Regions from separate parts of the Homo sapiens genome. Here all the other regions are linked to region 1. Evidence: fine-mapped expression QTL. A gene starts in region 1. Each other region holds a variant in brackets. All regions are shown on one strand. Distances are between the middles of the regions. Region 1 holds the start of CASC15 (cancer susceptibility 15). Region 2 has its middle 20 kb from the start of SOX4. Region 3 overlaps CASC15 (cancer susceptibility 15).

The links. PIP is the estimated chance that this variant, and not a neighbour inherited with it, causes the effect. A credible set is the group of variants that fine-mapping cannot tell apart.
Region 2: its variant is the best candidate, but not a certain one, in a credible set for the expression of CASC15 in sigmoid colon (GTEx, PIP 0.70).
Region 3: its variant is the best candidate, but not a certain one, in a credible set for the expression of CASC15 in lung (TOPMed, PIP 0.61).

What each region holds. Positions count from the first base shown.
Region 1 is chr6:21,662,258-21,670,438 of GRCh38, forward strand. It overlaps CASC15 (cancer susceptibility 15), which reads left to right and starts at 4,156. Exons shown (of 12, transcript NR_015410.2): 1 at 4,156-4,388; 2 at 6,390-6,642. LOC124901483 reads right to left here and starts at 3,803. Exons shown (of 3, transcript XM_047419653.1): 1 at 3,795-3,803; 2 at 3,390-3,558; 3 at 2,284-2,701. The coding sequence starts at 3,803. The coding sequence ends at 2,298. RefSeq lists a silencer at 3,421-3,715.
Region 2 is chr6:21,609,322-21,617,502 of GRCh38, forward strand. No RefSeq gene overlaps it. Among named protein-coding and RNA genes, the nearest start is that of SOX4, 20 kb to the left of the region's middle. The variant G/A (reference allele first, on the strand shown) is at 4,588.
Region 3 is chr6:22,039,943-22,048,123 of GRCh38, forward strand. All of the region lies in intron 7 of CASC15 (cancer susceptibility 15), which reads left to right. Among named protein-coding and RNA genes, the nearest start is that of NBAT1, 100 kb to the right of the region's middle. The variant A/G (reference allele first, on the strand shown) is at 3,638.

The sequences.
Region 1 (8,181 bases):
GGGATCTCTCACTGGTCATATAGTATGGGAAATGTTTATTATACTCCTTCACTCTCACTGGGGATTCAATCAAAAGCTATGTTACTTCTAACTAATTTTTCAAAAGTGTGATTCTAACAGTATTTCCTGTTGCATTGCTGATTGCTAGCATTAGACTTACGGAGCTTCTTTCTGTTTAATGACTCTCTGTGCAAAACTTTCACGTATGACATATGATCCTACTTATTGCTACTTAACGTTTCCTTCAGTAAGCTATCTAATTTTAAACTATTACATAGAAAATGAACTAGATAACTCAAGACATTTCTCATTAATTAAATAACTTCTTTTTTAGAGAAAATCGGATCTTGTAACTTCATTCTCCAAATAGAACAGAGTCCTCCCTTTAGAAAGAACATATATAAGAGGTTTCTTAGTTGTGTTTCCCCAGAAACTGACCCAAAGGGTAGGATTTGAGGGCAAGTATTGTAATCTATTTGGGATGAGATCCTAGAAAGCATTGGCAGGGAAGAGAGTGAAGGAAATAAGTAGAGAAACCAGGAGGGAAGGAAGAAAGGAAGGAAGGATGGCAGGCAGGTAACACTGTTCCCTAAAGGGGAGGTTACTGCTGTGTGTATCTGAAACTCAAAGTTGGGCACCTTTGGGAGACTAGAGTACAATTTACCGTAGTCCTAAGCTCAGTGGGGAAGCTGGAGTATTTTTATATCAACACCTTTTTTTTTTTTTTTTTGAGATGGAGTGTCACTCCGTTGCCCAGTCTGGAGTGCACTGGCACTATTTAGGCTCACTGCAACCTCCGCCTCATGGGTTCAAGCAATTCTCCTGTCTCAGCCTCTCGAGTAGCTGGGTTTACAGGCACATACTACCACGCCCCACTAATTTTTGTATTTTCTAGTAGAGACAAGGTTTCACCATGTTGGCCAGGCTGGTCTCGAACTCCTGCCCTCAAATGATCCACCCACCTCAGCCTCCCAAAGTGTTGGGATTACAGGTGTGAGCCACCATGCCTGGCCTCAACACCTATCTTTGATTGGTTGAGGGCTGCTCTGAGAGGAATTAACTGCCTGGCTCCTCTGCCCTGCCCCTCTGCACTGGCAAAGTGGGGTCTGGCAGCCACAGGAAGCCCTTGAATGGGGAAGCAGAGAGGGAAGAGTAAGATGCCATTGGCCTGCCAGTAGGAAGCCCATGACATACTGGTGGAGCCCCAGCCCTGTTAGTACAGAAAAGATACCTGGCTGATATGCTCTGCTATATCCATCTTTGAGCCTAGATGATGTTAATTAACTCTTTAAAAATATATTAAAGCTGTGGTGGCATCTGAGAAAAGATGGTATGCTTTTAAAAGGTAGGAGTGAACAGCTCATACATTGTCCCAGGAGTGGGCTTTATTACAGAGATGGGGGAGCTCTGACCTGTTGAAGACCAAGATTCCAGGAAGAAATGTTTGTTCACAAGCAGGTTGGGAAAGGGAGATACTTCAAACAGCTCTGAGAGCAATATTTCATAAAGACAGGCAGCAGGAAGAAAGCCTTCTTAAGGCCATATTGACTTTTGCACCTAGCAAATGACCCTTACTCTTCATTCCCATAAAAAAGAGAGAAACAAACAGTAAACATTTTCAAAGGATCGGTAATGTTTTAATAGCTCTGATTAGTAAGCGGAGTATTGGGTGTTATTTCGAAGTCAAAAATTCTATCTTGGTTGATTTACCCTATAACCTGGAGCATTTTCGAGAGGCAACAGAATGGAATTGTCTCAAAGTACTGACTTTTCATTATTTTCCACGCAGATCCCTGAGGATAACAGAAGGAAAGGTTTTGTCTGGGGGAGGGTAGGCTTCTCCCAAAAAGAGAATTCTGGAAGTCAACATAATTAAACAAAGAGGAAAATGTGCCAGACAGGAGTGGGTGGGGGCTGTTTTCTCTTTGTGGTTGGTTGTGGTGCGTTCAAGATTCCTCGCCTAAGATGAGGTTCCTGAGCTTCCAGTAGGCGACTGACTGCCCAAGAGACCCAGGGCTCCGCAAGGAGACGGCGCAGGTGTCGGGGCTCCCCGCAGGTGAGGAGGCCGACGTTCCAGGAGGTCCGCCCGGGCGGTCCCTGAGTCCTGCCTCGCGGCTGCTCGCTGGGATCCGAGGGCGGAACGGGACGCGCAGGAACCCGGCCCGACGGGCGCGGCTCACACCCGTGCTCTTCCTGCGCTCTCGGCCTCACTTTGCGGCCAGAGCCGCGGCCCTGCGCGTGGCCGGCGGCCGCTTCTTTATCTCCGACCCCACTGCCCAGTACTGTACGCGTCCAGACTAAAGAAACATCATTCGCTTAAGGGGCTGGGAAAAGCGCGTGCTCCGCTCGCCCTGGCACCGCGGGTCGCCCAGCTCGCAGACTGGGACGGGCGGTGCAAGAGGTGGTGCTCCCTGTCCAGGAGGGGACGCGGAAGAGGGCATCTCTGGTCCCGGGATGCGATTGTCCCGGTTTCTCCTTCTGGCCCACTCGCCGCGCGCACGAACTCTAGGGGAAGTTGGTTGTAAAGTTTCCGAGAGCGGCGTGGGCTGGTGCGAGTGAAGCGCGGGGCGGGGGAGGCGAGGACAGAAGCTCTCCTCGCGGCGTCTTTGTTCTGCTCTGGAGGAGAGACCTTGGCAAGGAGTCGCCGGGCGGGTGCAGGGACCTACCGCCACCACATTCCGGACCCAGCGGGAGCCCTCCTCTTAATGCCCCTCCCCCCGCAAGCCAACCCAGGACATAGCCCCCAGGTCCCCAAGGTTCCGTCTACCTCATCCTTCTACCCCCAAACTTCACCAACCCGAAAGGATTCCAAGTCTGGGATGGGGAGAAAGGAAAGAGGGTGGAGGCAAAGGTGCGCGACGGGCTGGATACCAACTGGAGGGTGGGTGTTCGCATTGAAATGTTTTTTTCTTTTGCCCTAGAAATTGCTTCCCCATGCGGGCCCCTACTCTCTCCCATTTCCCCCACCTCCCTGCTTTCTTTTTCTTCAATTCTAGTGGATCTAGAAGGAAAACGAGTGCTGCTCTGAGTCACTCAGCGAGCTAATGCTATGGCCCGAAGTTGGGATCAGGGTCGAGGGGTGGGGGACCATGTGGATGGGGTCCCAATTCTGGAGGTTGAGAATGACTGGAAGGGACCTGGGGAAGGGTCGGGAGCTGTTCCTGGTCCGAGACACCTGATTTGTCCCGGACAAGGCAGTGGGGGAGGGGAAGGAAAGAGGGGATGCTCGGCTGGGACGTGTCGCGGCAGGGGGTGGAGGATGAGGAGGCGGCCTGGGACCCCGAGTCAGATCTTTGGGGTGAGCACGAGGACGTGGTGTAGGGAAGAGGACGAGTGAGCAGCGCCTGGCTGTAGGGTCAGAGGGCGCCTGGTCATCCTGAGAGCCTTGCCTTCGCAGTTTGAGATTAGGGGAAGTTCGGGGCCTGAGAAGGTGGGCGCGATGCTGGAGCTGGGAATTCTTCCTCGGAGCCCCTGGACCGAGTTGCGCTGCGCCTGCAGCAACAGGTAGCCCCGAGGGATGGGCGGAGGCCCCGGCCGAACCCGGAGCTGGCCTTTGTCCTGCCAATTAGAGGGCTCTCCAGAGGGACAGCGTGGGTGGGGGTAGGTGGGGAAGGGCGGGAGAGGAGTTTCCTAACACTTGGAGCCCCTTTGAGTTGTTCTGTGTATTGGGTGGAGGAGGGTGAATCCGAGAGGAGGGAGGAGGGTGAATCCGAGAGGAGGAAGGAGGATGAAGAGCCTAGCCTGCGCCCCACCTCTGATTGTGTAAGCGCCTTTATCTAGGGTTGACCCCCTACCCTTTGCATTTTGTCTCTTGGGATGACGAAAAATGGACAGAAACTCGACGCCCAAGTGAATGTTTCACATTGATTGGCAGGGAAAGTGCAAACAAAGAGGTGCATCTCCGGGAAACAATGATTTTGGAGATCCCCTGCCCACCACCCCAGACTTGTGCGCGGTGCGGAGGGGGCCAGGGCTGGCATCTCCCGGGGAAAGTTTCGAGCCTGGCAGTGGGAGGAGACCGTCTGGGCAGAGTTGTGATGAACTGGGGACCGAGCAGCCCCAGCTCGCCTCGGAGGTTCCCGAGCCGGGCGGGAGATGCGGGGAGAGGGAGGGGGCGGGGAGGGAGGGGAGGGAGAGAGGAAGAAGGGGTGAGAGGGAGAAACCTGCCGCCGCTCGCCGCCTCTTTGTCTGCTCCGGGACTTGGAACAAAAGGGGGAACTCTGATGAACTCTCTTTCCTCCCCTCTCCCCCGGACGCCGGGGTATCTCCCTCTCGCAACTTTGCCGCCCCGACTTTCTCTGCTGTCAGGCCGGGAAAAAGTGTCCGAACGCCTCGTGGACTGCAGCGGGGGAAATGTCCCTTAAAAGTGCGACGAAGTGGGGAAGAAGGTGAGTGGGGACTGTTGTCTTGTTTACCTCTCTCCCCTCAACTCGCCCCGCTCCCCGCCCTTCGGAGGGCAGAGGAGTAGCCCAGTGGCAAAGTTTGGCTGGTAAATTGTACCTCCTTTCCCCGTTCCCTTCTCTTTTGTTCTTTAAAGAACTCGCGCAATTGTTTCATTTGTTTATTTTTAATAGGCAAAAGCCAAGTAGGCATTTATCTTATGTGCTTCTTTATATGAGGGGCTGGGGGGATGGGGAGGAGGGTTTCAAAAGGGTGGGGTGAGGGGGTATTGCTTCGCGTTCTTCCAGCTGCACTCATGTAGGGATGAATATGCAGAAATTGAGAGGGTCAAGTCCAGCCTCGCCCCCACCCTAGCCCTGACCCTGGTCATGCAAAAGAAAGCGATATGGATATGGGGGTCGTTTGTATAACTTAGCTGTCTGCAGAGCGCTCTGTAGATACCACGCACAATATAAAAACGCTGCAACAATGGAAGGAAGAAAGGTTTGGGTTGGAGGGGATTGGTCCCTTGTGTTAGCGGTCAAGGAGAGGTTTACAACAAACAGCTAAGAGTTCAGAAAGTTTTCTTCGGGGCTGAGATGGGGTGGAGGAAGCCACAGGTTACAGACTGTCAGAGATGCAGGGATGGAGGGGATGGGGCCTGGACCACTAGTTAGAGCCATCCCGTCCGCCCCTTTCAGTTTCACGATCCACCCGGAATAACCCAGGCAATCCTTGGTATCCGTCCTCACCTCTCTCACTTTCCATCACCCCCCGCCCCCAACCCCACTTCAGTGTGTTTGAATAGAAAGCAGAACGTGAGCCCCAGAAGCTCCTCTGACCCAGCCTTCCGCCCCGCCTTTTGTGTTTTAACCTTTTGTTTCTATCTGCCACGCCCGTCCAAAAGAGGGATGGCTGTTTCTGCTGCTGCGGGGTGAAGAGGCAGCGCAGTCCACTCCGTTTTTATAGGCTAAGGAAGACGCCCTAACTTTGTTTCCTAAGTAGCTTAACTTAGGAATGTTTCTAGGTTGGGTCATGCGCGAATGAGGGGAACACTCAACACCCAGTAAACGTTGCCACTTTAGGTACAATTTCTCCCAGCGCTTTTCCACTTTATACAGGAGTTGTTTATCCCATACTGTCATTTGGTTTGTAGAAAAAGCATTTTGGGGGCCGGGCGCGGTGGCTCACTGTAATCCCAGCACTTTGGGAGGCCGAGACATGTGGATCGCTTGAGGTCAGGAGTTCGAGACCAGCCTGGCCAACATGGCGAAACCCCGTCTCTACTAACAATACAAAAATTAGCTGGGCGTAGCGGTGCGTGCCTGTAGTCCCAGCTACTTGGGAGGCTGAGGCAGGAGAATCGCTTGAACACAGGAGGCTGAGGTTGCAGTGAGCTGAGATCGTGCCATTACACTACAGCCTGGGTGACAGAGCCAGACTTTGTCTCAAAAAAAAAAAAAAAAAAAGGAAAAGCATTTTGGAGACTGAAGTTGGGGGTTTATTGAAAGTGGGCAAATGTATGCCTTATCTGAGGTGATATCTAAATATTAGGAATATGCAGAATAGGCTTTTTGAATTCTACATGCAGAATAACCTAAAGGTTATTATCTTCAGGTATGTTTTGTGAGATCATTTCTGATGCCAGGATAGTTTATTACCTTCTCCACTTTCTTCTCTCATATATTCCCAAGTGCTAGAGGCTTTCCTCACTTCCTTGGACTTACTTTTGACAAGACAAATGAAACATCAAAGCGCATGCACTGTCAATAACTTGAGGAAACGCCCAAACATTGTCTTTTAACTTCTTCAACTTTTGATTCTGTATAGTAGTAGTTACTATTGAAGTAGTTACTATTGTACCTAGAAATGATTCAACTGCTAGAACTATGTAGTTTTGAGTTTTCATATCAAAGACTGAAATATATTATTGCAACAATTACTTTCTTTTACAAAGTGAGGAGGCAGAATGACCTGGAAGCTAACTTTAATTAATTTCAATTGTATAGGTGTAATTACTATTATCAGCATCTAGAAAGCATCATGAATTTGCTGGAGTACTTCCTAGCACTGACCTCCTTCATTCTGCGTTGTTCTTACTGGATCTTTCCATCAGCCAACAATATGGAAGTACCAATACAAGGTCAAATCATTCCTGGATTCATCTGGAGTTGCTTAAAAGTTAAATCATTGGAATTTTTGATGATACCTTTTCTATATGGATTACAATTTGATCGCTGGGAATTCTCCACCTTAAAGAAGGTATGTTGCTTTTTAGATACTCTACGAGGACTTCATTTTTGGTCTGGGGCTTATACCCAGAGATTTGACTAGTTATTTTGAGCGGCTGTGTTATCAGAGTGATTTATGACTTTGGACTTCCTTGTTTTAAACTGTTTTCTGTAGATCCTTTCTTATTTAGGATGATGATTTGGGTATTTGTGATGGAATTTTATTAATTTTACCATCTGTTCTTCAACATTAGCACACATAATGAATGCAGATTATATGGTCACTAAGGAAATTTTGTAATGATGATGCATCCAGCAGGGAAATATCCTACTTTATTTGTGATTGATTTGCTTCTTAAATATTGCAGTAGATATTTCTAAGTTCTGTGTTAGCAGAACTTATGTTGTTTGCATTACTATTATTTTTCTTCATTTTGACACTTCATTTTGGTAAACAAAATCCAAAAATGGCCCAAAATAAATGTCTAATGACTGGGAGTCTATATAAAATACAGTAAGTTCTCTCAGAGTGAAAACCTTGAGTTTGTAATAACAGAGCCCGTACATTTGTTTAACCTTTATGGCATACATCAAGTTTTTATAGTGGTCATAAGAGTCTTCTATTCCTTCTTTTAAGTCTTACAATTAGTTTTTGTTCACCTCTGTGAGAAAGTAGTTAAAAATTCACATAACTACTGTTGGTAATATAAAAAGTTAATTTTGATATATTTACAATCCTTGTTTAAGTGATTGTTTGCCATGGAAAGTAAGAACTTTCTTTCTGTGGTCTGGTCAAATAAATTAACTGGGAATTGGAAACATTTTTATCTTGTTATGAGGAAAAAAGGAACATTACAACTTGCTTCTTTCTAGCTGTATAAACATAAACAAGCTACTTAACCTTCCTGGGCTTCTGTTTGTTACCAATAAAATGAAGGTTAAGTTAAATAACTTAAAACATTTTTGAAATCTTTTAACATTAAGATTCTATGATTTGTTACTTGCTTCTATAAATAAGATACATCCTCTCTTGTAAAGTTTGTTTTTACATCATTGAACAATAGAGTTAACAGCATCATCAAGTTTTTTTTTTTTTTTTTTTTTTTTGTGTGACGGAGTCTTGCCCTTGTTGCCCAGGCTGGAGTGCTGTGGCGCGATCTTGGCTCACTGCAACCTCTGCCTCCCAGATTCAAGCAATTCTCCCACCTCAGCCTCCTGAGTAGCTGGGATTATAGGTGCCTGCCACCATGCCTGGCTAATTTTTGTACTTTTAGTAGAGACCGGGTTTCCCCATGTTGGCCAGGCTGGTCTCAACTCCTGACCTCAGGTGATCTGCCTGCCTCGTCCTCCCAAAGTGCTAGGATTACAGGTGTGAGCCACCGTGCCCCGCCTTGGCATGATAAACTTAATGTGATTTAATTACAATTATTTTGTTTGAATGCTTAGCTCAGGTAGCATTAGTTCAGGAAATATGCTTTAAATTTTCTGTAAAGTATACTCTCAACTAAGTGTTCTGTATGGAAATTTCAGATTTCCTTAAATGTTCTCAATAAAAGTTTGTCTGCTGGAA
Region 2 (8,181 bases), 53 kb before region 1:
GAGTGTGTTATAGCTCATAAAGGCAGTGTGGACCCAAAGAGTAAACAGCAGCAAGATTTATTGCAAAGAGCAAAAGAACAAAGCTTCCGCACTGCAAAAGGGGACTCGAGTGGGTTGCCACTGCTCGTTGGGGCAGCCTGCTTTTTTTCTCTTATCTGGCCCCACCCACATCCTGCTGATTGGTCCATTTTACAGAGAGCCCGGTGGTCTGTTTTGACAGGGCGCTGATTGGTGCGTTTACAATCCCCGAGCTAGACACAAAGGTTCTCCACTTCCCCACTAGATTAGCTAGATACAGAATGTCCACACAAAAGTTCTCCAAGTCCCCACCAGAGAAGCTAGATACAGAGTGTCGATTGGTGCATTCACAAACCCTGAGCTAGACACAGGGTGCTGATTGGTGTTTACAAACCTTGAGCTGGATACAGAGTGCCGACTGGTGTATTTACAATCCCTTAGCTAGACAAAAAGGTTCTCCAAGTCCCCACCAGACTCAGAAGCCCAGCTGGCTTCACCCAGAGGATCCCACACCAGGGCTGCAGGTGGAGCTGCCTGCCAGTCCCGTGCCGTGCGCCCGCACCCCTCAGTCCTTGGGCGGTTGATGGGACTGGGCGCCGTGGAGCAGGGGGCGGTGCTCGTCAGAGAGGCTCGGGCAGCACCAGAGCCCAAGGGGAGGGGGGTAGGGAGGCTCAGGCATGGCGAGCTGCAGGTCCCCAGCCCTGCCCCGCGGGAAGGCAGCTAAGGCCCTCTGAGAAATTGAGCACAGCAGCTGCTGGCCCAGGTGCTAAGCCCCTCACTGCCTGGGGCTGGCGCGGCCTCCCGGCCACTCTGAGTGCGGCACCGGCCAAGCCCACGCCCACCCGGAACTCGCGCTCTCCAGCAAGCATCGCGTGCAGCCCAGGTTCCCGCCGGGGCCTCTCCCTCCACACCTCCCCACAAGCTGAGGGAGTGGGCTCCGGCCTTGGCCAGCCCAGAAAGGGGCTCCCACAGTGCAGTGGCGGGCTGAAGGGCTCCTCAAGCGCGGCCAGAGTGGGCGACAAGGCCGAGGAGGCCCCGAGAGCAAGCAAGGGCTGTGAGGGCTGCCAGCATGCTGTCACCTCTCACTACAACAGAACATCCATGTGACAAACTGGCAAAAGATATTTTGGGCTAGGTTTGGGTCTGCTTTGTGGGAGTTCAATCTTATCTAGTCATCATAGAGACCAAGATACACTACCCCCTTTCTTTCTCCTTTACACAGATATACTCAGAGAAAATCCACACATAACCACCCAGAGCAGTTCCTCTTTCATCTGTTTTACATAAATGATTCTGCTTTAAAAATGGAGAAAAAAAACCTACTATTTTGGGATGTGATCATAGAGTCACTGATCACAGAATTTTGAACTTTTTAGATGACAAAGAATATTTAGGGGCCATTTGACCTAGCTCCCTGGCTTGATCCTACCAAATTCCCCAAACATATTAACATAACATAACATAACATAACATAACATAACATAACATAACATAACAACATACCAAACATCATAACATAATGTTCAGGCCTGTTCTGTCTTGGATGCTGGTTCATGCTCCAAAATTAACTATTATCAAAATCGTTATAAAAATCCCTGTCCCCTCAATAATAAATAATAATAATCATAATAAAACACAATAAAACCCACTGTGTTTTCCTTTAAGACTGCTGTTAGGTAGGTGTTTTAACATCAATATGACTGAAACTTTTTTTTTTTTTGAGACAGAGTTTTGCTCTTGTTGCCCAGGCTGGAGTGCAATGGCGCAATCTCGGCTCACCACAACTTCCACCTCCCAGGTTCAAGCAATTCTTCTCCCTCAGCCCCCCAAGTAGCTGGGATTACAGGCATGTGCCACCACACCTGGCTTATTTTGTGTTTTTTAGTAGAGGCGAGGTTTCTCCATGTTGGTCAGGCTGGTCTCAAACTCCCGACCTCAGGTGATCCGCCCACCTCGTCCTCCCAAAGTGCTGGGATTACAGGCGTGAGCCATTGCGCCCGTCCTGACTGAAACTTTTTGATTAAATGGTTCTCAGGTGAGGACCATTTAATAATTTATTTGAAGTTCCTGGGTAGTTGTGGGGCTATCTGTAGTCTCAAAACACACTGCAGTTTGTTCCCCCACCCCCAGGCAGAAGTAGGTCCAGAAGCCTGTCTTTGAAAGAGGCAGTGCTAAATACATTGGGAGATTTACTACTACATAAATGCACATTTAAAAAAAAGAAGATTGTAGTTAAGTTCAGATTGTTCATTTGTAGAAGGATGGGTAGTTTGACAAAATGAAGTGAGAACATTCATTCAGAAAGTGTGGGCGGAGATCTCTTTAGCTGTAGGTTGGTAATTGGCGGCCATTTTGGCAGGCTAAGTGGTAGCAGGCCTTGGGAATCTGCCCGAGGGTCAATTCCTCTAAATTGTTTCCATTTCTCCCAATTAATTATCCTTCTCCACCCAAACCCACCTGTTCTTTGAAAGAGTAGGAGAGTACTCAGGGCAATGTTTGCAGGTTCAAGTACCTACCACTAACAGAATTGGCTTTAAGAACTTCTCAATAAACCACAAGCATTTTATGAACAAAACAGCCCCACATATTTAAGGAGTAGAGAAATTAAAAATATTTTCATTTCCTCCATGCCCATTTGGAAGAAGACAGACATATGTAAACTAGGGACTGCCAATTGTATGCCAGTTTCTCTTACCTTTAATAGAGGCCTTAACAACTGTGGAGCGTTTAAAAATAGCGCTGACAAAGGATGGTTGAAACTATTCCTTTCTAGTCCTTCCTCACATAAGTAGCTGGAGCCCATTGTAGATGTGGGACCTGTGCACACGCACTGTGCAGTCAGGGGAGACCCTCAGAGAGCATTTTCCACCCCTGGACTCCTGCGTGGCTTGGTTCCTGGGGAGGGAGCACTTTTCCTCTATCTCCTTGCCATCTCTCATTCAAGTTGGTCCATCTGGAAGTAATATTATCTGAGCATTATACCCCAAGCCTGGCTCTCCACAAGTGACTGCATGTTTCCTGAAACCAACTATTGGCAGCTGTTACACAGGCATTTTCTGCTTTTTAGATACCTATAATTACACCAATTATGCGAATCATTGATGTTTATAAAGGATTTAAAATTTTACACACCCAGAAATGTCTATCAGAAAGCAGCATCTGAGGCAGAGTGACACCCTACAGAGGGGCCTATTTGGCCTTCACAATCGCTTCTGAGAGTCCCTTAAACTGAGCCATCAGCAGGGTAGGCAGCTTCTTATGAGCCTATATGTCTTTGGCAAGTTAATCCTGTCACTGGAGTACAATTCTGTTTGGTTAAGAACTACAGAACTCAATCTAACTTTTATTTTCAAAGGAAAGAATGATGTGTCGAAGTTAGTAAAATTAGGCATTTGACTTTAAACTCTCTGAACTGCAACACGAGGATAAGATGGTTGACATTCCCCTGTTCCAGCCTCCTCCTTTAGATACAGTGAGATAGGACAAGTACTGTCCCGTTAGCACACAGACTGGACAGCGAAGAGCCGTCCTGGCAGTGCCGGAGAGTGCCATAGTGGAGCCCGAAGCAAAAGGAAAACATGGGTAGTACTGATCTAGTCTTCATTTAAAGTTTTCATGCCTTTGTTCATTATGAATATTTTTGCATTGATTTTGACTTTTAAAAATATTGCACTGGCTAGGTGCAGTGGCTCATGCCTGTAATCCCAGCACTTTGGGAAGCTGAGGTGGGTGGATCACCTGAGGTCAGGAGTTCAAGACCAGCCTGGCCAACATGGTGAAACCCCCTCTCTACTAAAAATACAAAAATTAGCCAGGCATGGTGGCATGCCTGTAATCTCAGCTACTCGGGAGGCTGAGGCAGGACAATTGCTTGAACCAGGAGGCAGAGGTTGCAGTGAGCCGAGATTGCGCCACTGCACGCCAGCCTAGGTGATAGAGACTCTGTCTCAAAAATGTATATATATATATAAAATATATTATATATACTATAATTATAATATAATATATAATATAATTTAATATTATATATATATTTATGTCACTAAGCATTATTTGTCCCTATTAATGAGTTTTTTAGCCCCATTTAAATTTTGTACCTGCCCCAACTCAGAGTCTCTGGTGGTGGGTTTGGTGTGTGATTTGCTAGCTCCGGGATGGTCTATACCTCTGAGTCCTTTTTGTATTTCTCTATTTTTGTATTTGCCTTTGTCCAGCAGCCGGCTTCGCAGGATTTAACTATTTTTAATTGTGCTCCTGAAACATGAGAACAATTGTCCTTAATTGTTAGCATGCATAAGGATCATCTGGGGTGCTTGTTAAAAATGTAGATTTCCAGTCCTCCTGCCCTGCAATTTGGATTAACTACCCTGAGGTGGAATCAGGATGTCTGAACCTCTGTATGTCTACATTTTTAAGCAAACAAACAAAAATGGTTCTGATGCAGGTGGTTTGCAAACCGCACTTGAGAAATTCATGACAAGTATGTTTAAAAGTGTCTATTTCAGGAATAGTTACGTTTGGTGAGTTATGCCCTGTCTCATCAGAGGCAAAAAGGGTTACTAGGAAATG[G/A]CAACTGACTATGGAGTAGCTACCAAAAATGGACAATAAGAAAGTTACTCTCCAAGCCAACCCTATAAGGAACAGAAAGCAAGGGCCAGAAACCAGCTCCAGTAGGCTGGTAGCAATCTCTGGCAGGTAGAATTTCCTGATAATTCAGCAGACAGTAAATAAACCAGCACATGTGTAAGCACTTGGTGTCTATAGGCAGCTCACAAATGCAAGGAGATATCGTTATATATTTATTCAGTGTTTTTAGAGACACTTAATGTTCCACAGAACATTGCATTCCTTTACAAATCCTCATTCTGCCAAATTTTCTAAATTTAATAGGATTATCCCCTAATGGAAGGCTTTAACAATATTTCTCAAATTGAGGTTTGAGAACCACCTATTTAGTATGTAATCCACAAACGATAGGTGACTTTTTCTGAAAATGTTATCTGGAGCTCCCTAAAACACTTCTTTGCAGCCTCAGGCACTTGTGGAAACTCGCCAAATTATTTAAATCAAGATGAGAGGAATTTAATAACAGAAGCTAACACTCAACAGTTCCTATGGGCAGGTCCCATGCATTTGCATGGATTCTCTACCACATGTATTTCTCTCAGAGTGGACAAGAATCTTAGTTCTTAGTCAACAGGCAAAATTCAAACTCTGTAAGTAGGAACCAAGAACGGAGCGCTTAACTACTACACTGCTCCTAGCAGTGACAGAGGGTGTGCTCCTGTGACCCTAAGCCTCCCCCTCACCAGGGTAACATTCTCAACCAGTTTTATCACTGCTTCTTTACAAGACATTATTCCAGATGACCCCCGTCTTAGTTCTCTGCTGTGGACATTTCACATTTTTGAAGGGTCTTTGAAGACTGAAGACCGCATCCCTCAGCATAAAGCTTACATGTGTCCCATCAGCCCCAAACCTTCCTAAAGTCACCCTGTCTTCCCAGAGGTGGTCACACTGCTGCTGTCTCAGAGCTTCGCCCTCCACAAAGTGGACTTTTTCTCTTATGTGGCTGCTAAGCTTCAGCATCCCTATCTGATGCTCATGGGACCCATCATTGATCCCATCTGAATTGTATTTGATAGTGGTTTTAGTTGGTATACAATGATTTTGATCCTGTTTCTCCAACGGGGCATCCACACTGAGTCTCTCCAACGCATCTCCATTTTGCTGGCCCACACTGGCTTTGGGTGAGGCATGTGCTGTGTTTGGGAATCCTTATTATCTTCCTGGAACAAGATGCAGGACAGCTGGTTAGGTGAGTGCCTCAGTGTGCTTCCTTTGAAAGGCAGGAAGCAGAAGAGGGTTTTGCTGTCACTCCGCTGTCTGCTGTGCCGTAGAGAGGGAGCTTCCAGCCCTGGCGATTTCTGCTTTCCTTTTTCAGAGGCTGGAGATCTTCTTAGCCCCCTACCCTTTTCTTTTTTGGCAGGTGGGGAGCAGGGAATTCACTGGGCCAGGGATGGGAGGTGTGGGGAAGAGTGGAGAGTGAGCTGAGCCTCGTGATTACCAGGAAGGTATTGAAGTATTTTGTATGTTTGGAAGGTAACAGGGTGAGGTTAAAAGGTAAATCTAGTTTTTCTCTGTCCACATTCCCTACACACACACACACACACACACACACACACACACACAGAGCACACTCAAGCCCTCATGTTGTACTGTTTCTGCCACCGTTTCCCTGCTGTTGTATTGCTAGAAGAGGAAGGTGATATTTTGGAAGACATTTGATCCATCTAATGGAAGAGGAAGAAAACAGAGAGATGAGATCAGGGGAATTTCTGAAAAAGAAATTCTGAAACACAAGGGACAAAAGAGTGAGTCATCGAGTCAGCAACAATCATGGGAGACCATCTGGCTCACGGCTTCCCAATTTTGTTTTTAGGGTTTTTAAAAATGTCTAAATGGCTTGACAATTACCTGCTCTGCTGCATTCAGGAGGGAGGAAGGGTTATTTACTTATTTACCTCTGACAATGAACATTTGTATAGAGATTGAGGTGGCACATTATATTTTGGGCTAGGTCTCTGAAATGAACCTTTGAAAACAATATATCTGGTTCGTAATGAAAAGGAAAAATAAAGTTAAAATAAGGTGGCAAGCCTTGGTTCACCTTTTTTCCTGGCTGGCAGATCTGCCTCCCCTCTGTTGTGGCTGAAAATTGCAGATGCTCAATTCCCAGACTCCTTTTCTGCCAGGAGCACCCTGTGTCCGAGAAGTTGACCTAAGGGCAAGTCTGCCGGGGAGGGGAGGGAGATGTCTCAGAGCGATTTTCCTGCCTGATAATGGGTGAGAGGCCACTGATGAGTGCCTATTCCTGTTTCCTTCCTGCTTAGCGTGCACAGGGTGTGATGTTTGGAGCAGCTACGTGGCTGTCCTGTGGCCAGGAGCAAATGCCCAGAGAACCCTGGGAAGGCTGACCCAGGGCCCTGACATGATGAACTATGGAACCAATTCAAGAACAGCACCACCAAACTTCTTATGTGGGGAAAACAAATTCATGTTGACGAAGTCATTTTTAGTCCAGTGGTCTGGTTTTTTGTTTGTTTGTTTGTGTTTTGTTTTGTTGTTTTGTTTTTTTTTGAGATGGAGTCTTGCCCTGTTGCCCAGGCTGGAGTGCAGGCTGGAGATCATGGCTCACTGCAACCTCTGCCTCCTGGGTTCAAGCAATTCTTCTTTCTTAGCCTCCCTGGTAGCTGGGATTACAGGCGCCTGCCACCACGCCCAGCTAATTTTTGTACTTTTAGTAGAGACGGGGTTTCACCATGTTGGCAAGGCTGGTCCCAAACTCCTGACCTCAAGTGATCTGCCCACCTTGGCCTCCCAAAGTGCTGGGATTACAGACATGAGCCACCATGACCAGCCTGGTCTGTTTCTTGAAAGTAATTTGTTACCTGGTAGAGACAGAGAAAACAATTTTCATGCAGGATTTTATTGAGTGGCTTACTCTGAGCCCAGTGAAATTACTACTAAACTTTATCACCACCATTTACCACCACTAATGGCATCAATAGCAACATTTATTAAGCATTTATTATATACTTGTCCTTTATATATATATATATATATGTATATTATTTCATTTAATTTCAACCCTATGAGATAGTTATTATTTATCCCCATTTTATAGGTAAGAAAATAAATAACAGAGAGTTTGTTAAGTAATTTGGCCAAAGTAATAGCTGATAAGAAATAGAAGTGAGGCCAGGTGCTGTGGCTCACGCCACGCTTGCTTTGGGAGGCCAAAGCAGGTGGATCGCTTGAGCCCAGGAATTTGAAACCATCCTGGGCAACATGGTGAAACCCCATCTCTACAAAAAAAAAAAAAAAAATTAGCTGGGCTTGGTGGCTGATGCCTGTGGTCTCAGCTAAGGCAGGAGGATCACTTAAGCCCAGGAGGTGGAGGTTGCAGTGAGCTGAAATCACACCACTGAACTCCGGCCAGGGCAACAGAGCAGGACCCTGTGTTAAAAAAAAAAAAAAAAAAAAAAAAAAAAAAGTGAACGTAGTTCCACAGTTTACCATCTTTTCCATAGGCATTAGACAAAAATTTAAAGTACAGCATATGTTTTAAAGTTAATTTTAGAAAGCAGTTAGTTATAAATG
Region 3 (8,181 bases), 380 kb after region 1:
GTGCATCTCTCTGTCTTTATGCTAGTATCACCATGTTTTGATCACTGTAGCTTTGTAGTAAGTTTTGAAGTCAGGAAGTGTGAATCCTTCAGCTTTGTTCTTTTTCAAGATTGTTTTTGGCTATTCAGGGTCCTTTGAGAGTCCCTATGGATTTTCGAATGGATTTTTCTATTTCTGCAAAAATTGTCATTGGGATTTTGATAGAGATTGCATTGAATCTACAGATTGCTTTGGGTGGTATTTATATCTTAACGGTATGAAGTTTTCTAATTCATGAACATGGTATGTGTTTTTATGTATTTATGTCTTTTTAAATTTCTTTCAGAAAGTTTTTATTGTACAAGTCTCTTAACTCCTTGATTAATTCCTAAGTATTTCATTGTTTTTGATGCTATTATAAATGGAACCATTTTTGTAATTTCCTTTTCAGATTGTTCATTGTTAGTATATATAAATGCAACTTACTTTTATATGTTGGCTTTGTATCCTGCTACTTTATTGAATTTATTATCTCTAACAATTTTTTGAGTGCGGGATCGGGGGATCTTTCGGAGATAAGATCAGATCATTTGCAAACAGAAATAGTTTTATTTTTCCTTTCCAATTTGGATGGCCTTTATTTCGTTTTCTTGCCTAATTGCTCTGGCTAGAGCTTCTTGTACCATGTTGAATAGAAGTGGTGAAAGCAGGCATCCTTGCCTTATTTCTGATCTTAGAGTAAATGCTTTTAGTCTTTCACCATTATGATGTTGGCTATGGGTTTTTTCATATATGGATTTTATTATATTGAGGTAGATTTCTTTCTAGTATGTTGAGTATTTTCAACATGAAAGGGTATTGAATTTTGTCAAGTCCTTTTTCTGAATCAACCACATTGAGATGATCATGTGGTTTTAGTCTTTCATTCTGTTAACATTATATATTATATCAATTTTTCTATGTTAAACCATCCTTGCATTTCGGGACTAAATCTCATTTGGTTGTGGTGTATAATTCTTTTAATATTCTGCTGAACTCAGATGGCTAGTATTTTGTTGACAGTTTTTACATCAGTGTTTATAAGGGATATTGGTCTATAGTTTTCTTTCTTTTTCTGGCTTTGCTATCACGGTAATACTGGCCTCATAGAATGAATTAAAAAGTGTTTTATCAGCCGGGTGCAGTGGCTCATGCCTGTAATCCCAGGACTTTGGAAGGCTGAGGTGGATGGATCACCTGAGGTCAGGAGTTCAAGACCAGCCTGGCCAACATGGTGAAACCCCATCTCTACTAAAAATACAAAAATCAGCTGGGCATGGTGGTGTGTATTGGTAGTCCCAGCTACTGAGGCAGGAGAATCACTCGAACCCAGGAGGCAGAAGCTGCAGTGAGCCAAGATTGCGCCACTGTACTCCAGCCTGGGCAACAGAGTAAGACTCAGTCTCAAAAAACAAACAAACAAACAAAACGTGTTTTATCTTCTTCAGTATTTTGAAAGAGTTTGAGAAAGATTGGTGTTAATTCTTTATTTTTATTTTTATTTTTTGAGACGGAGTTTCACTCTTGTTGTCCAGGCTGGAGTGCAATGGTGCAATCTCAGCTCATTGCAACCTCTGCCTCTCAGGTTCAAGTGATTCTCCTGCCTCAGCCTCCCAAGTAGCTGGGATTACAGGCATGTGCCACCATGCCCAGCTATTTTTTGTATTTTTTTTAGTAGAGACAGGGTTTCATCATGTTGGCCAGGCTGGTCTTAAACACCTGACCTCAGGTGATCCACCTGCCTCAGTTTCCCAAAGTGCTGGGATTATAGGTGTGAGCCACTGCGCCTGGCTTACTTCTTTAAATGTTTGGTGGAAGGTTGTGCATTTTTAAAAACAGTTTTAAAGAATATATTTAATCAGCTGAACTGAGGGAATTGTTACATTTAGGATAAAGAGAAGTTTGGAAAACTGTGGGGTTTCCAGATTCATTGTTTTATCTCCAAGTGACAATTCCCTTCTGCTCTCCCGAGTCTTTACCACAGGACTGAAGATTCAGTTTGGCCTCTGTGATGTGGCCTGGCCGACAGTCTGTTGCTCTCTCATCCTTTAGGAGTCCTGGATGATTAGTAAGCATTTTCTCACAGCAAATGATTCAGAATGAAATGTAGTTCCAGATACAAAAATTATTTCTGAAAATAACCTCACTTCTTTAAAACCATTTCTGTTATATGTTGATTTAAAAGCATTTATACTGATCTCCAGTCAACTTTCTCTTTCTCTTGGTGTTCCTTCTTCATCCCTCTCCCCACTCTCTTTCTCTCTCTTGCCTGCCCACCTGCCCGCCCCCCTCCCTTCCTCCCTCCCTCTCCTTCCCCCTCCTTCTTCCTTCCTTGCTTCCTTCCTTCCTCCCTCCCTCCCTCATGGAATACCCAGAACAATACTGTCTAATAGACATATAATATAAGCCACATGTGTAGCCATGCTAAAAAAAAAAAAATGAAGAGAATTAGGTGAAATTGATTTTAATAACACACTTTATTTAACCTAATATATCCAAAATATTATTTCAATATTTAATTAATATAAAAATTAATGAGCTATTTAACTGTATTTTTCATAGTAAGTCTGTGAAATCCACTGTTTTAAACTTGAGATACATCTCAGTTTGGACTGATCACATTTCAAGGACTCAAGAGCCACATGTGTCTAGTGACCACTGTATTAGACAGTGCAGACCTAGTGTATTTGGTACCAAGCACGTAAAGTCCAGAAAAGGGCAGCCCTCCACTTTGCTTCATGGACAGGACAGATCAATAAAGGATGAATGATGGCTGTGAGTACCTGGGGAGGAGCTGTGCATAGAGTATTAGGGAAGCCCAGAGGAGGGGGTCCAAAGGCAGACCTGTGAGCTGGGGCCTCCCTGCAACTTACTTGGCTTGTTCACTACCACTAGATCTCATTTCTTTGAACTAGTCCCCTGTGGGGAGGCAACTGAGCTGGAGTTTGGCATGGGCCCCAGTCCATCAGACATTAACTTTTTGCCTCATGTATTAAGAGAGCCACTGGCAAGTTCACATTTAATTACAGGCTCTGCTCTGGCCACAGGTTTGGGAGCTGGGATTTTGGAATCACAACCTCACTGCTTTCTGTTCTGGTCTGCCTTTCATTCCCACACACAGGATGGCTCATCTAGCTTCCTGGAGATTGCTCTCCGGCCAGGTGCACCTCCTTGCTTCTTTTTACTGCAGTGCCCAGAGGAAGATGTAAAGTATGACTGAGGGAAGGGAAGGAAGAAAACATTTTTATTTTCTTCTTTGTCTAGACACCTCCCCTACTCATCTCTGGGAGGCAGCACCAAGAGCTCTGGTTGTTAATGGAAAGGTCATCAGGTGGCCTTCTGTGGATCCACCTTGTCCCCACCCTGGCCACTGTGCCTGACCTGCTTCTCAGGGATTTAGAGAGGTAGCTAATGTGGATGGTGTGGCTCCAGCAGTTAGGCAAGTGTGTGTATATCCAGGCTCCCTGCTTGGGGAAGGGTGGTAGAGAGATGTTTACAGATATCCAGCCAGGAAGTGCAAGGGAAGAGGAGGAGCTGTTTCCACTTACCCTCCTACCTCCTTTTGGCTTTCTCTTCTGGCATTGCCTACGGCCAAAAAGGGATGGGAATTTGGCAAAGT[A/G]AAAGTATCTCATTGTACTTCCCCACCCCTCCGTCTCACCTCCCTTCTAAGACTTTTTTCTACCCAGGTCACTTAATACTCAAAGACTGCAAATTCCTTTCCTACTGCTGATGTGGAAGAAGCTTGGAAACATGTTCCTTTCCAGGAGATAAGTGATACGGCAGAAAGACGGGTCAGATGAGGCCAAGGGATTGGAGCCAGAGTCTTACCAAACTCGCAGGCAGCTTGTGACTGCGGGCATGCTGTGCTGATGGAGGAGGGGAGGCCTGGGGGCTCCATGCTGTCGGGATTCCTCCCTTGATAAACAGAGTCAAGGTGGGTAGGGGGACCTTGTGAGAGGTGTCCAGCCCTTTAGAAGATTCTATTAGCATGTGTTGGCTTGTTAAATGATCTACCCATTGAGATTGGTGGCCTGGTCCAAGGCTTTGCTTCTGATACCACTTAATCTCTTTTAATATTTGAACTCTATACTATTAACATAGATTTCTTTGGGAACTGTATGCATTTTCCACCACAGGGAATCAAATCCAGCATATAAAGATGGCAAGAATCTCAGTAATTACCTAAATTCATGAAGAAGCCAAAGTAAAAATATTTCTTCTCTTGGGAATAATAAAATAAAATAAAATAAAATAAAATAAAATAAAATAGATGAGAGCTGAATAGCTCTTCTCCTTACCCCACACTCACAAATCTCCTAAAACTCAAAATTAATGTTACAATACACATTAGCAGATAGCATTTTTATCGATAAGTGTTAAATTAAGGAGTTAACACTGAGAAATTGAAACTGATTAAGAAAATGGAAAAGGCCACAGTATTTGAATGTCACATATGCATACTTATATTGTACCGTAGATACTGAAATAAGATCATTGTTACTGGTGCAGCCTGTGGTCAAATGCATTTTTTTTCTTTTTTTTTTTTTTTAAGACAGGGTCTCTTTCTGTCGCCCACGTTGGAATGCTGAAGTACAGCAGTGCAATCATGGCTCACTGCAGCCTTGATCTCCCAGCTGCTCAAGTGATCCTCCCACTTCAGTTTCTTGAGTAGCTGGGACTACAGGCATGCAATACTGTGCCTGGCTAATTTTTTAAATCTATTTTTTTTGTAGAGACAGGTTCTCAGCTCAGGCTGGCCATATGCATTTTGACACCCCAAAATATTTTGAATTATTCTTAGTTTCAGTAGATGAGATGAGTGATCATTTGAGTTCCTTCAACAGGTCATTAGACCAGACCAGAAGCGAGCTGTGATGATAACACAGGCTGTGGGCAGGCAGGCACCATGAGGCACAGTGAGAGCACCAAGACTGTGGGCTTTGGGTTTGAATCCTGGCTCCACTACTAATCAGCCCTGTGCAAGTGACTCAGCCTCTCTTAACCTCATTTATTTTCTGTAAAAATGGGAATTGTAGATTTATATTTATGGAGATTATTAAGATAATCTGTGTAAAATACTTAGTCCACAGTACCTGACAAATATTAAATTCTGAGGAAATATTAATTGCTATTATTACTACTTCAGCTCTGAAAATGCTGTTTTCTTGACAGTAAATGGCTGTTTTGTTTATTTCTGCCAGTAGCAAAGTAATATATTGATTGTTTAATGCCTTCTTGGCCTCTTTGAAAATGTTTAAAATTATGTTTACCTTTTCTTTATATCATTGCAGGTTTTGTGTGTGTGTGTGTGTGTGTGTGTATGTGTGTGTGTGTGTGTGTGAGAGTGAGTGCGTTTTGGGAGGCCAGTAATTACCCTGTGCAGATGGAGCTGCCCAAACAGTCTTTCCCATGGCAACTGAAAAAATAAAAAATAAAAGCAAAAACTTTGAGGTTACATAATTGCCTTCAATAGACTAGGAGGAGTGTAGAGATCATGACTTTTTTTGTGGGTTTTGGTGTTCTTTTGGTGTAAGGTGTTGGGTGAAGGTACAGAGGTCCTACTGAGTAACTGAACAGGATGCTGTTGCTTGCTTTGAAGTGAATAAATTGGTCAAAAGTACAAGTGGGAGGGGAAGTTGAGGTTTAATGAAGGAGGGCCATTATTAATGTTTCCATGGTTTTAGCAGTTTAAAAGTTGGGAGTTTAAATAATGTTGTTAGTTGTGGGGAAAACAGCCCACAGACATTCAGACATAGTTGAAGTTTAGTCTTTCAGTCTTCATTTTAATCTGAAGGTAGGGAGCCGAGCCTTCTGAATCACACAGCAAAGGGATTGCTTCGTAATTTTAACAGTCTGAATTATTGCATGCTCATAATGGCATAAGATTTGCATAGCTCCACCACTCTCATCAAATCCCAATTATCTGAAGATTGTTTCTCTTGGGAGGCAAAAGAATATTATAATTTTTGGGTTTCTTTTAATCTTCCAAAATGATTTATATTCATCCCCTTAAAACCTGGGTGTAACCAAAGGCACTAGGGCCCAAAGAACAGGTGTTGTCTTTCCAGAACATCCATAAAAGGATCCCTGTATACATTCTCTTTGCACCTCTTGTGTAGGGGTTAACATGGAAGGCTTCATTATTTGACTGGAAAGTAGGTTTGACTTTCCCACTGGAGATTTGATACTCTTAGCTCCAGAACCAAGAAAGAGAAGACTATTAGACTTTCCTTGCCCACCACCCCCTCCCCAACCCTGCCAAATGTATGCTAAGCCTATATTTGTTTTATTTCCAACCAATTTGTTGGAAATAAATTGGTTATTTATTTCCTTATTGGTTTTTCTCTCCAGAGACCCAAAAGATCATATAATGCCAACTCTATGTTATTGATAATAATCTGGGCATAGGAAGAACACGGAGAGTTGAAATCCACAAATCCTCCTAAAACCCAACATTCAAAAACCTCTTCTGCTCAGCTCTTTACATGTGAGCAAAGGAAAGGAGAATGAGAGATAAGATATTAAATGAGTACACGTGGCTCAGGGCACTTGGTGTCAGAAACTCTGCGTTACAATCCAGCCTCTTCCAGTTACCTGGTGAGCACTGGGAAATTTTTGTAACTCCCTGAGTTCTCCCTTTATCATTTGTCACATGATGAAAGAACACTTTAGTCTTGTTGGTTGTTGTATTAGATGAGATACGATATATGTGACGATTTGTAAATTTTGGGGCACTCTCCATGTGGTGCTCACTACTTTGTGTCATCTGATAGAGAGGAGGAGGAAGCATATATAACTAGCAGCCTGAGTAAATATTGGTTATCGTTTACTTCCAAATTGCCAAGAATGGGCCGTAAACCAACAATCTGCCTTGTTTAACCTCCATCAGCTACAATTGCCTCAAGGCCCCCAAATTGCAATTGGTAAGACAAAAACAATAAATGCAAAATCCATATTTGTTTTCTTCTTCCTTAACTTTTTTCATTCATGGTGGTCAATTGAGGTTATTAACCTAACTGACCTGCAAGGATAAACAAATGAGTTTTTTTTTTTAATCCTTTCTGGGAATCCTAAATAACTAGTTTCAATTGTTGTAAGTTGTGGGAGCTGGGAATTTGTTTTCTCCCCAGTACTGGACTCTTTTACAGTGGCACACTGGGAAACCAAATTTGAAACTCAAAGGAGAAATGGAACGGTGACAGTTTCCTTTAACCTGAGCTCAGGGCTTTGGCAATAGCTCTGCTCCAGGTTTCTGTTCTATCTAGTTCTGCCTGGAACTTAGATAAAGGAAAGCTTTCTGTATCTTCCATCATCCTTGCCTTGTTCTAATGTAGCAGGAGTAAGTCTTTCCTAATAGTGTTGCTTCTTTTTTTTTTTTTTTTTGAGATGGAGTGTTGCTCTGTTGCCCAGGCTGGAATGCAGTGGCGCGATCTCGGCTCACTGCAACCTCCACCTCCCACGTTCAAGCATGTCTTCTGCCTCAGCCTCCTGAATAGCTGGGATTACAGGTACATGCCACCACACCCAGCTAATTTTTGTATTTTTAGTAGATATGGGGTTTCACCATGTTGGCAAACCATGGCTGATCACCAGTAATTCCTGACCTCGTGATCCACCCCCCTTGGCCTCCCAAAGTGCTGGGATTACAGGCGTAAGCCACTGCACCCGGCCGCTCTTTTTTTTTTTTTTTTTTTGCCTTCACTTTATTAAAGAATGAGAGTTTTCTTTTACATTTTTTCTCATTGCTCTCTCAGCTGTTTTTTGTTGAAACTAGTATGGAATGACTATTCCTTTCCTTAGTGTGTGCGCCCATGGTGCATTACACATGGCACTTCTCCCTGTAGGGGCCCCACTCTATCACAACAACCAGTGTCCTCATCTCTCCTAGGCCTTGCTCCTGGCCCAGCCCTGAGCACATACTCTGCAATATTCGAACCCTTGATCAATTCTGAAAGCAATTTATTAACTTCCAGCCGTGAGAAAGAAGTGAATTAGTGGTCAGGGTAAAAATTGTAGGCATAGTTTAAAAATTCATTCCAGTGACATAATGAAAAATTTCATCAGGAGTCAAGATTGGAGATCTCTTTTTGGCTTTGCAACTGAGTAAATGTGGTAAAGTTACTTGATGTCTATGTACTTCAGATTCTTATTTATAAAATTGGA